Regions from separate parts of the Homo sapiens genome. Here region 2 is reported to be linked to region 1. Evidence: microRNA targets listed by miRTarBase, many of them from high-throughput screens and not tested one by one. Region 1 holds a microRNA gene; the other region holds the end of a gene's coding sequence.
The links. The annotated mature microRNA hsa-miR-502-3p reads AAUGCACCUGGGCAAGGAUUCA and lies in region 1 at 2,945-2,966, shown strand. An mRNA with a match to its seed (bases 2 to 7 or 8) in the 3' UTR can be bound and repressed. Matches are read on the target gene's strand: a 7mer-m8 pairs with bases 2 to 8, a 7mer-A1 pairs with bases 2 to 7 and ends in A, and an 8mer does both.

Region 2: miRTarBase lists FCN2 as a target of hsa-miR-502-3p. The part of its 3' UTR that is shown has no 7-base or 8-base seed match.

Annotation. Positions count from the first base shown.
Region 1 is chrX:50,011,705-50,016,879 of GRCh38, forward strand. It overlaps MIR502 (microRNA 502), which reads left to right and starts at 2,894; the gene lies at 2,894-2,979. All of the region lies in intron 3 of CLCN5 (chloride voltage-gated channel 5), which reads left to right. MIR660 (microRNA 660) reads left to right here and starts at 1,537; the gene lies at 1,537-1,633.
Region 2 is chr9:134,886,730-134,891,729 of GRCh38, forward strand. FCN2 (ficolin 2) reads left to right here. Exons shown (of 8, transcript NM_004108.3): 8 at 439-794. The coding sequence ends at 686. Among named protein-coding and RNA genes, the nearest start is that of FCN2, 8.4 kb to the left of the region's middle. RefSeq lists an enhancer at 3,076-3,576.

The DNA of each region.
Region 1 (5,175 bases):
CTCTGTATAGGAGAGATCCTTTCATTACTTTTCTGTACAGTCACAGATGAACACACTATATGCGGTGAGCCTTCCCTGTAAACCCATGTGAGCACATGTGCACACACGCACACGTGCACACACACATACTCTGTATGGCTGCTTGGGCCTTCAGTCCTGTTCCCCCTCTTGAATCCTGGTACCTGGATGCAAGTGCTGTGTCAATGCGGTGCACCCAGGCAAGCATTCCACGGCTGAGCCTTTTCTGCATAGAGCGAAGAACACCTGTTTATAATCCCCATCCTTCATTCATTCCCACCTTTAACAAGCAGGGGTGGCGCTCCTGTCATGCACCAGACATGGAGAGACAGGGTGGTCAAGAAAGACACAGAACTCATACTCACATGCCTAGTGAGCATGTTTAAGAGAAGGAACTTCCGTTGCCCACATTGTTCATGCATACGTATGTAGCAGAGAGTGAGTCTTCCCATCATCCCCTCTCCAACCCCCCAACAGTGCTCAGCTAGAGAACTACAAAAGGTGTGTCTCCCCTTACACAGAGCTGCAGCCACAGTGTGCATAGGATAATGAGTGTCATTAGCAGCATCTTCTCACTCATGTCTGGTGTGCAAGGCAATAGGCTTTCTACTTGCTGCTTATGCCACCAGAGCTTGAAGGAAAGTGGCCCTACTTGTCAGTCATCTCACACATGCATATGAAGAAAAGACACTTCACCTTTGTATGGTCATAGGAAAATCACCTGTGAGCCAGAGAGTGCTGTTTCTTTTGTACATACACACAAACACAATGGATTTGAAGATGCTCGAGCCTTCTATTCAGGTTGTCCCTCTCTTTCATTCTTCGTAGTTGGGTACAAATGCTATTCCAGTCCATTGCCTTGTACAAAAATTCAGAGAGGGAATCTCATCCATGTTTAAAAGTGTAGAGTCTTTGCATCACCCCTCTATGTCCCATTATTTCATTTCTTTAAGTTATGTATAGAGCAGTGGTTCTCAGTGTGGTCCCTGGGCCAGCAGCATCTGTATCACCTAGGAGCTTGTTCAAAATGCCAATTCTTGGGCTCATCCCTGACCTACTACACCATAAACCATGGAAATCTGTACTTTACCAAGGCTCTCAACTGATTCTGATGCTCACTTAAGTTTGAGAATCACTGATTTAGTATAAGTGCTAGCTAGGGGCAGTGATAAGCTAGTCAGGTGAAGGGTGGAAGAGAATGAGCTCCTGCATTGCTCATGTACGTTCCCAATGCCGAGTCCATGCAGACTGTGGCAGGGAAGCCATCATTTCATTACTGTCTCCACCTCCTCCATAACCACACATTCAGTGAGCACATGAGGCTAAGTGAACACACAACAAGTACTTTATTAGGGAATAGACTTGGCACTGCTTCTCCAGGCGTGCACCTGACACTTTAATCTCAATCTGTCTCTCTCTCAATCAATCAATCAATCTCTCTCCTCTCTCTCTCTTTCTCTCTTTCTGTCTTTCTTTCTCTCTCCTCCCCCACCCCCCTCCCATGTGCAGAAGAATGAACTGCTCCTTCTCCCATACCCATTGCATATCGGAGTTGTGAATTCTCAAAACACCTCCTGTGTGCATGGATTACAGGAGGGTGAGCCTTGTCATCGTGAATCTTCTGCTGAACAATCCAAGTAGCCCGTGTTTATTGCGCACTTTTGATGTGCCATGAGCTGTGCTGGGAGTACCCTGCTAAATAATGGACAGTGTCTCTCTCCGGGACTTCCTATCTAGTGGAGGTATTAGGTGCCTAGACTTCCCCAGGCCTAGGCAACAGACACAGGTGTGTCAGGAATTGAGCCTTCTCATTCTCTTATGAATACACATGCTCACATTGTGCATGCATGTGCACACACACATGTGTAAGTGTAGAAACATTTCTGTACAAAGCTGAAAGGAAGGAGCCTTATTATCTAAACTTGCCTGCAAGTTTCCTTGCCACACACACTCAGATGCATGCCTGGTGTGCAGGTGCCTGGACTTTGATTTTTGCTTGCCCTCTCCTAGCCTTGCAGCCTAGGCACAAGTGCTGTCTTAGCAGTGCAATGGGCTTGTGCAAGGATACCAGCTTGTGAGCCTTGCCTATGTGTAGGACAGAGCCTGTCCATCCCTTCTCTTTCCTTTGTTCATTCTTTCAGTCAGTCATTTGTGTGTGCATGTTTTTGGTCCATTCATTTATTCATCCCTTTAACAAATTTACTGAATTCCTGCTGTTTGGGAATGCCACAGTAAACTAACCTGTCAGAGATGCCGACCTTACTGTCTAGCAGGCTCATGGAGAATAAGCATCCTCATGTCATCCAACTTCCTGTGAATACATGGGCTCAGGGTGCCAGAAATCAGGCTTTTCTTTATTCCCTCCCACAGACATGGGTACCTGTGCAAATATATGTGGTGTGCACATCCTGAGCCTGCTGCTCTGCTTCCCCTTGTATCCTTGCCACCTAAATGTGCATGCTGTCTCAGTGCAGCACCTATTCCAGGACTCTCAGAGGGGCCTTTTTCTGCCCATAGACAGACAAAGTGCCTGTGAGTCACACTTCCTCCTCCCTCTCCTTCCCCTCTACCTCCCTTTCACAAGTATTGAGCACTTAGTACATGCTAACGCTGTGCTGCCAGGGCAGTGGGCATATGGTATCACACAAGATGGACTTGGTTCTTGCCTCAAAGAATATGTGTAGGAGACTTGACTTTTTGTCACCTAATATTCCTGCACGTGCTGAGTTAGTGTGGGCCACAACATGGGACTTCTTATTGACACCCTCTCCCAACATATACACAATGCAAGACTCTCATTCCTGTTCTCACACAGAGCTGTGTAACAGAGAACCTTCTCTGCTTCGAGCACGGCAGGTGCCCAAGCCTTCTGCCCTGCTCCCCCTCTCTAATCCTTGCTATCTGGGTGCTAGTGCTGGCTCAATGCAATGCACCTGGGCAAGGATTCAGAGAGGGGGAGCTCAACTGTACCAAGAAGGACAGAGAGCCTAGACATCACCCCTCCCACCCTCCCCTGTCATAGTTTTTGAGTGATGGGTGTGTGTTGGGGAAGCACAGAACAGAATAGTTAGGGACTTCAGGTGCTCTGGTGGGCTTGTCTGTGTATTAGAATAAATGTCCTTATTAAATAATGTCCATGTATGCAGGTATCCAGAGTGAGACAGTGAGCTTTCTCTGTGTTCCCCACCTGCTGTCCACACACAGGGTGGTGGGCGGGAACCAGAGCCTTCTGATTTGCTCCCTCACTTCCTTCCAACCTAGATGTGAGTGCTGTCTCAAGTATTAAGCCAAGGATTCAATGAGATGGAGCCTTGCCTACCTATATGTATATATATGGACTGAGTGCATATATGTCTCTTTTCTTGCCTTCCTATATCTTGAGTTTCTAGAGTGTGACAGATACTCTTTTTAGTGTTAAGGATGCAGTGACAAACGAGAGTCAAAATCACTGGATGTGCTCTCTGATGGGCAGCTTTAGAAGAAAAATTCAGACGGGCACAAATGATGGGGGCCAAAGAGAGAGTCTTCCTATTCCCCCCACTCTGTCCCCTCTGAGGACAGGGAGATGCACACATTCATGAAGATTTACACTTACAGAATGTATAGGAGTTTGAGCTTATAAGCTGCCCTTTATCTTCCAGGACATCCTGAGTAGAACTGTGAGCTGCCTTTAGATGTCTATTACAGACTCTTCTTGAATTAGAGGGGGTGAAGAGCAAGGGACCCTTCTTATTGCTGATCTTGTATGCACCCCACACAATATGGAAATGAGAACAGCCTATATCTTTATATTACCTTACTTTAGTCAAATAGAGATGGACTATACATGTCTCTGTTTCAGTCTATCGCTCTCTCTGTCCGTCTCTCCATCTCTCTCTCTCTCTCACCTAGGGAGTACAGGTGCCCATGATCTGATTCACTCCCCTCCTCCCATCCTTAGCGCCTGAGCCTGAGTGCTTTCTACTGTGACCTCAGCAGTATTCTTCAGTTGTTACTCTCTTCTTAGCTAAGCTGATCTATTCATTCCTCCCCATCTTATCATTTTTGCTCATTGCCCATTGCAAATTTATAGTGTTCAGGTCAGCGTAGCAATACAGTATTATAAATAGTGGTGACAGAGACAGAAAGAGACACACACTCCATTTCAGTCCTCAAGTTCTTAAACATTTGGGACTTATAGATTCTGATCCTTGGTCCTTCTTCTCTCCCAGATTCTCCCAATCTAACCTGCAGTAAAGATTCAGGTTATTTAATATGTGCTCCTTATCTTTTGTATACTCTAAAATCTCATTTTGGTTACTGCTCAGCCTTAGTCTTATTTTATCAGACTTTATACCTCTCTTGATGCCCAAGACTAGCAGCATCAGCATCCTCCAGGAACTTGTTAGAAATAAACTCTCAGGCCTCACCTCAGACCTAGGTAATCAGAAAGTCAGGGGTGGGGCCCAGCAATCTGTGTTTTAACAGCCCTCCAGGTGATTCTGATGCACACTGAAGTTTGAGAACCATTGGTTTAAATGACTTAAAATTTCTATTCTGTCATTACTAGGGGGATTTCTGTGTTACACAGGATGATTTTTAGCATCAAAATTTCCTTATGTGTAAATGGCTCTTTTAGTTTCTTTTCATATTTTAAAAATTCATAGACTTTTTTGAGCAGTTTTAGGTTTACAAAAAGATTGAATGGAAAGTATAGAGTTGTTATATATTCTCGAGACACCCCAGTTTCCGCTATTAACATCTTGCATGAGTGTTGTACACTTGTTAAAATTGATGGGCTAATGTTGAGACATTATTATTAAATAATAGTATAATTATAATGTATTATAACTATTATTAAATAATAGTTTAAATATAATTATTAATGTAAACCATAGTTTACATTAGAGTTCCCTCTTTGTGTTATATACTCTATGGGTTTTGACAAGTGTATAATGACATGCATGACCATTATAGTATCATACAGAATAGTTTCACTGCCCTAAAATTCCTCTGAGTTCTGCCTATTTATCCCCCCTCCCCCACCCTAAACCCCTGGCAACCGCTGATCATTTTTCTGTCTCCATAGTTTAGCCTTTTCCAGAATGTCATATAGTTAGAATCATACATTATGCAGCCTTTTCAGAATGGCTTATTTTACTTAGCACTATGCATTTA
Region 2 (5,000 bases), not on the chromosome of region 1:
GGGGGTCATGGGACACATCAGTGTATGACTGCAGAAATCCCAGCAAGGGCATCTGGTAGGAAGGAAGTCTCTGCAGAGCAGGGACCTATGCACGGTGACAGCAGCTGATATCTCTGCGGGGCATGGCTGGAAGGGGTCTGCCATGATGGAATCCAGAGTAGAGAATGATGATCCTGACCCCTGCCTCCTGTTCTTCTGTGAAATAAACATAGTACACATTAGGTGGCAGGGCTAGACCTAAAGACAATTTGCCAAGACCACTGCCAACAGCAGGGCAGTATTCACTGGAGTCATGGATTGCACTTCTTGGATTGTGCAGTGCACAACCTGCCTAACCATACATGGAGGACACACCAGGCCAGGCCTCAGGTATAAAGACTTATACTGTCTGTAATGATGTTACTGCCTGTAACGATGCTCACATTTCCTCCTGCACAGGAGATTCCCTGACGTTCCACAACAACCAGTCCTTCTCCACCAAAGACCAGGACAATGATCTTAACACCGGAAATTGTGCTGTGATGTTTCAGGGAGCTTGGTGGTACAAAAACTGCCATGTGTCAAACCTGAATGGTCGCTACCTCAGGGGGACTCATGGCAGCTTTGCAAATGGCATCAACTGGAAGTCGGGGAAAGGATACAATTATAGCTACAAGGTGTCAGAGATGAAGGTGCGACCTGCCTAGCCCAGGCCGGCCTCAGGGTCAGGACGCCTCCACACATAGTTGGTTGGGGGGTAGGGTTGGGAGCTTGGCCCTACGGTTTGTAAAAGAAACACATGTCGTGATTCTAAATTGGGTTTGTCTTGCTGTGCGGAAGAGGTTCAAATCCAGCTCTGTTTCCGCAATCAACCCTTTCAGATTTGTGACATTAACTCACCTCAAACCTCTGTCTTTCCTTGACAATGAGTAAGAATGTGTTCCTGACCATGCCAGCAGGAACCTTCCTTAAGGACAAATACAAGACTTTGAAGCTGCGATGGGCTCAGAGTGCAGCCCTGCTCAGGTCCCTGGGCAGGCTAAACGCCTTCCTGGGGCTCGACCATCTGGGCTTCTCTGTGAGCTGGATGGCAGGGAAGTCAGAAGGCACATTGGAGAGGAAGTTTCTCTTGCACTCAGAGATGCCGTTGCCTGTCCAAGGCCCCCAGCCTCGTAGCCGCAGCTCTGCTCACTCTCCCCCGTCACCCAGGCTTCCTGCCGCCTGCTGTCCTGGGTATTCGTGGGATCTGCTCGCTACTTCCTCACAAGCCGAAGCAAGAGTGGCAGTGTGCCTGTGACTCCCTCATCAAAACGGAGAGAGTGGTTACATGAGGCAGGTGTGAGGGACCCGAGCACTCCTGAGGAGGGAAGAACACTCCTCTTGGCCATGAGTGTCCATCCCAAAGCTGCCCTGCAGCCTAGCCCAGTGCAGATTGAATCAGAAAGCCAAAGCCCCTTCCACCCGCTTCTCTCAGGCAAGCTGCCTGCAAGAGAGAAAAGTGTATTAGTGCAGGAGCTTGTGTCTGCTGAGGATGGCACCTGGCCCTCTCCTCTCACCACGTCCGGGTCCTCCTGAGGACCGGTCCCCTGTCCCCGGTCCCCAGCCAGCTCAGCCTGACCAGGCTTTTAGAGGCTCCGCACCCCAGCATCGGCCAGTGCTGACCCTTGTACGGCTGTTTGGGTCCCCGATCACTCTCATAACAGCCCTGCCCTTGTCCTATACCCTCTACTCAGAGAGGATCCAGAAGGGTCCAAGGAGGCCATGATCCCTCCCTGAGCTTTTTCACGCGGGCCCCCTCCTTCCCCTACGAGGGTCCGTCCTGGGTCTTAGCTGGTCTAAGCCCTACACAAGTCATGGAGAGGGCTGTGTGTCTGGGACTTCTCGGGGGAGAGTGCACTGTTTCCTCTGAGTTCCTGGAGGGGGTGCGCCATGAAGATCAGGACACAGCCATCTTCACCTTCCCTCCTCACTCTGGGTCCGAGGCCTGGGATGAGCCAGGACAGCGGGAAGCAGGGATGGCCCTGGGCGTGGCACTTCCTTCCTTCCTGGGCCCGCAGGAGGGGGCCACACCACCCACCCAGGGGGCTGACCCGTCCTCAGGACAGAAACTAGCAAGCTGTCAAACCTGAGGGTTTATAACTAAATGACGGGGTGCTGCCCCTGGAAATTACACCCAGACATCTCTTTTCTCGTAGACCTGGGTCCCTAGCTTTTAGACAGGATGACAAATCACTGACAGGTGCTGACTTTACATGCACTGTGGCCTCACGCTTCAGCCATTCACTGCCAGGCAGTCTTCTAGGGCAGCAAAGAGCTCAGCCACACAGCCCGGGCCACTGTCAGGATGAGACCTGGCGTCAGACCTCCTCTCAGCGCCGCTTACCCCCCATTCTGGGCATTTCAATCTCCAACAGGAGATTTAAATGAAGAAAACACGCACCTCACACAGCTGTAAAGGGAGGAACTGGGAATTTCTCCCAAATCTTGACCCTTGAGTTCTAGAAATGGGGTTCTCCCTGGAATGCATGATGGCATTATTCTGGAAGGCAAAAATAAAGCTATTTAATATAGAAATGTTTTTAGCCTGACAAGCCAGAGATTTTTAAAAATATTGTTTTTTTAAATTTTCTTAATTGAGAGATGAGCTAAAAAGTAACTTTTTCTAAATATTTAATGTAGCTTTGCTATACTTTATAAATACTGTCAAGCTTTGGGGGGGTTTGTTGGGATAAGAAAATGTACTTATAAAAATGCAGTCAGTATGTCAGGAGGCTGGCGTAATTAACACAGCACAGGGAGGTCATGGAGGCTTGTGTAATTAACCTAACATAACATAAATGTATTTGCATGACACGTGCATCGCATGTGCATACGTGTGTGTGTGTGTGCACCTGCGGGGCCTCTGGGAGGTGTAACTGAGGCAGGCATCGGAAGGGCTCTGTAGGACCAGCTGGTACTGGGTGGGCACCTGGGAGCCACAGGTGCCTGCTTCTCCCATCCCCTGAAAGACTTGGCTCCTTCAGGCCACCAGTGCTGCCTCAGGGTGTCTGGCTCCCCTCCAGAGCAGGGGGCTGAGCCAGGTTGGAGCCTAGGCCAAGGCCAAGAGTGTCCCCAGGGCTGGGCTGTCCCTGTCCCTCTGCTGGGGACCGCTGCCTCCCTTCCTGCTCTTCAGAGGTCTCAGGCCTCTGCTGTCGGGAGGGCTGGAAGAAGGGGCAGCAGCTGGCAGGGGGCCTGTGCCCACTAGACCCTAGATTCTTAACTGTAACTGTGGTTTCTGTGGCCAGGCTGGGGGTGACAGAGGCATTCAAGCCAGACTCCATCTTGAATAGGGGCTGGGTGAAATGAGGCTGAGGCCTGCTGTGCTGCAGTCCCAGGAGGTTAGGCATTCTTAGTCATAGGAGGTTGGCAGGACGGGTATCACAAAATACAGGTCAGGATGCGGTAAAGAAGACGGCCAAATCCCACCAAAACCAAGACAGTGACAAAAGTGACTTCTGGTCGTCCTCACTGCTCACTATATGCTAATTATAATGCGTTAGCATGTTGAAGGACACTCCCACGACAGTTTGCAAACACCATGGCAACTTCCGGAACTTACTATGTATGGTCTAAAAAAGGGAGGGACCCTCAGTTCCCTGCCCCTTTCTTGGAAAACTCATGAAAGATCCACCCCTTGTTTAGTATGTAATCAAGAAATAAGTATAAAAATAGCCAGTTAGCAGTCCTCAGAGCTTCTCTGCCTATGGAGTAGTCATTCTTTTGTTTCTTTACTTCTTTAATAAAGTGGCTTTTACTTTATGAACTCGCCCCAAATGCTTTCTTGTGAGAGGTCCAAGAACCCTCTCTTGGGGTCTGGATAAGGATGCTTATTTTCCCCAAAGCTGTGAAGCCTTGCTTTGGCTGGAGTAACTGACATTGAAACCGCCACTGTAAAATTATGACTGAGACAATGAAAGAGATCTGACTTAACCAACTCCATCTTGCTTCTAACCTCCAAGCTGTGCTTGTTCATTCCTAGGCATAGGCTGAACTAACTTTGGGAGGAACTTAGTTTATAGTTCAAAACAAAGATGATAATAGCCCTTTCCCAAAACCTCCTTCTTGCCTGAGGACTAGACTCCTTTTGTAGGACAAATTAGCCACAAGATTAGAAATTATGGTTTAGGAGTCATGCAGCTGAAGGCTACACGATTCTGACCCTCTCTCAACTGCTCCTGAAGTCAGTACTTGGGATATTTTGCAGACCTTGCACTTGATGGATCAGCTGGCACCACCCAGCTCAATAAACTGGCTCGTCTGATCTTGTGGCCCCCACCTAGGAACTGACTCAGTGCAAGAAGACAATTCTGACTCCCTGTGATTTCATCTCTGACCAATCAGTATGTCCAGCTCTTTGGCTTCCCCCCAACCCTGACCAATCAGCACTCCTGGCTCATTCGCTTCCCCCCAACTCACCAAGTTGTCCTTAAACACTCTGATCCCTGAATGCTCGGGTAGACTGATTTGGTAATAATGAAACTCTAGTCCAGTATCCTGCACGGCGGCTCTGCGTAAATTACTCTTTCTCGATTGCAATTCTCCTGTCTTGATAAATTGGCTCTGTCTGGGCAGCAGGCAAGCTGAACCCACTGGGTGGTTGCAACATCAGGAAGTCCCCGTCCTTAGGATGAGAAAGGAGCCCGCCCTGCAGGGCTGGAACCCCATGTATCAGGAAGGTGAAGCAGTGTACTCAGAAAGCTCCTCTGCAGGAGAGAGGGCCATTTAACAAATCTAGGCCCAGGGCAGTCCTCCACCTCTGAGGACTCTCCCCATGAAGGTGTGATGCTCTCTGGGAATGGGAGCACAACTTGACCCTTCCCTGGGATCCTCATTCTCCACCCTGCCCCTGCTACACCTTTTCCAGACCTCATTCTCACTCGCCTTCACCTCTCCAGAATCTGATGTGCTTTCTGGTTTTGTCTTCCCTGTGCTCTGCCTTCCGAGCAGTAGCGGGTGCTCTGTGGAACCCTAGGACCCTTCCA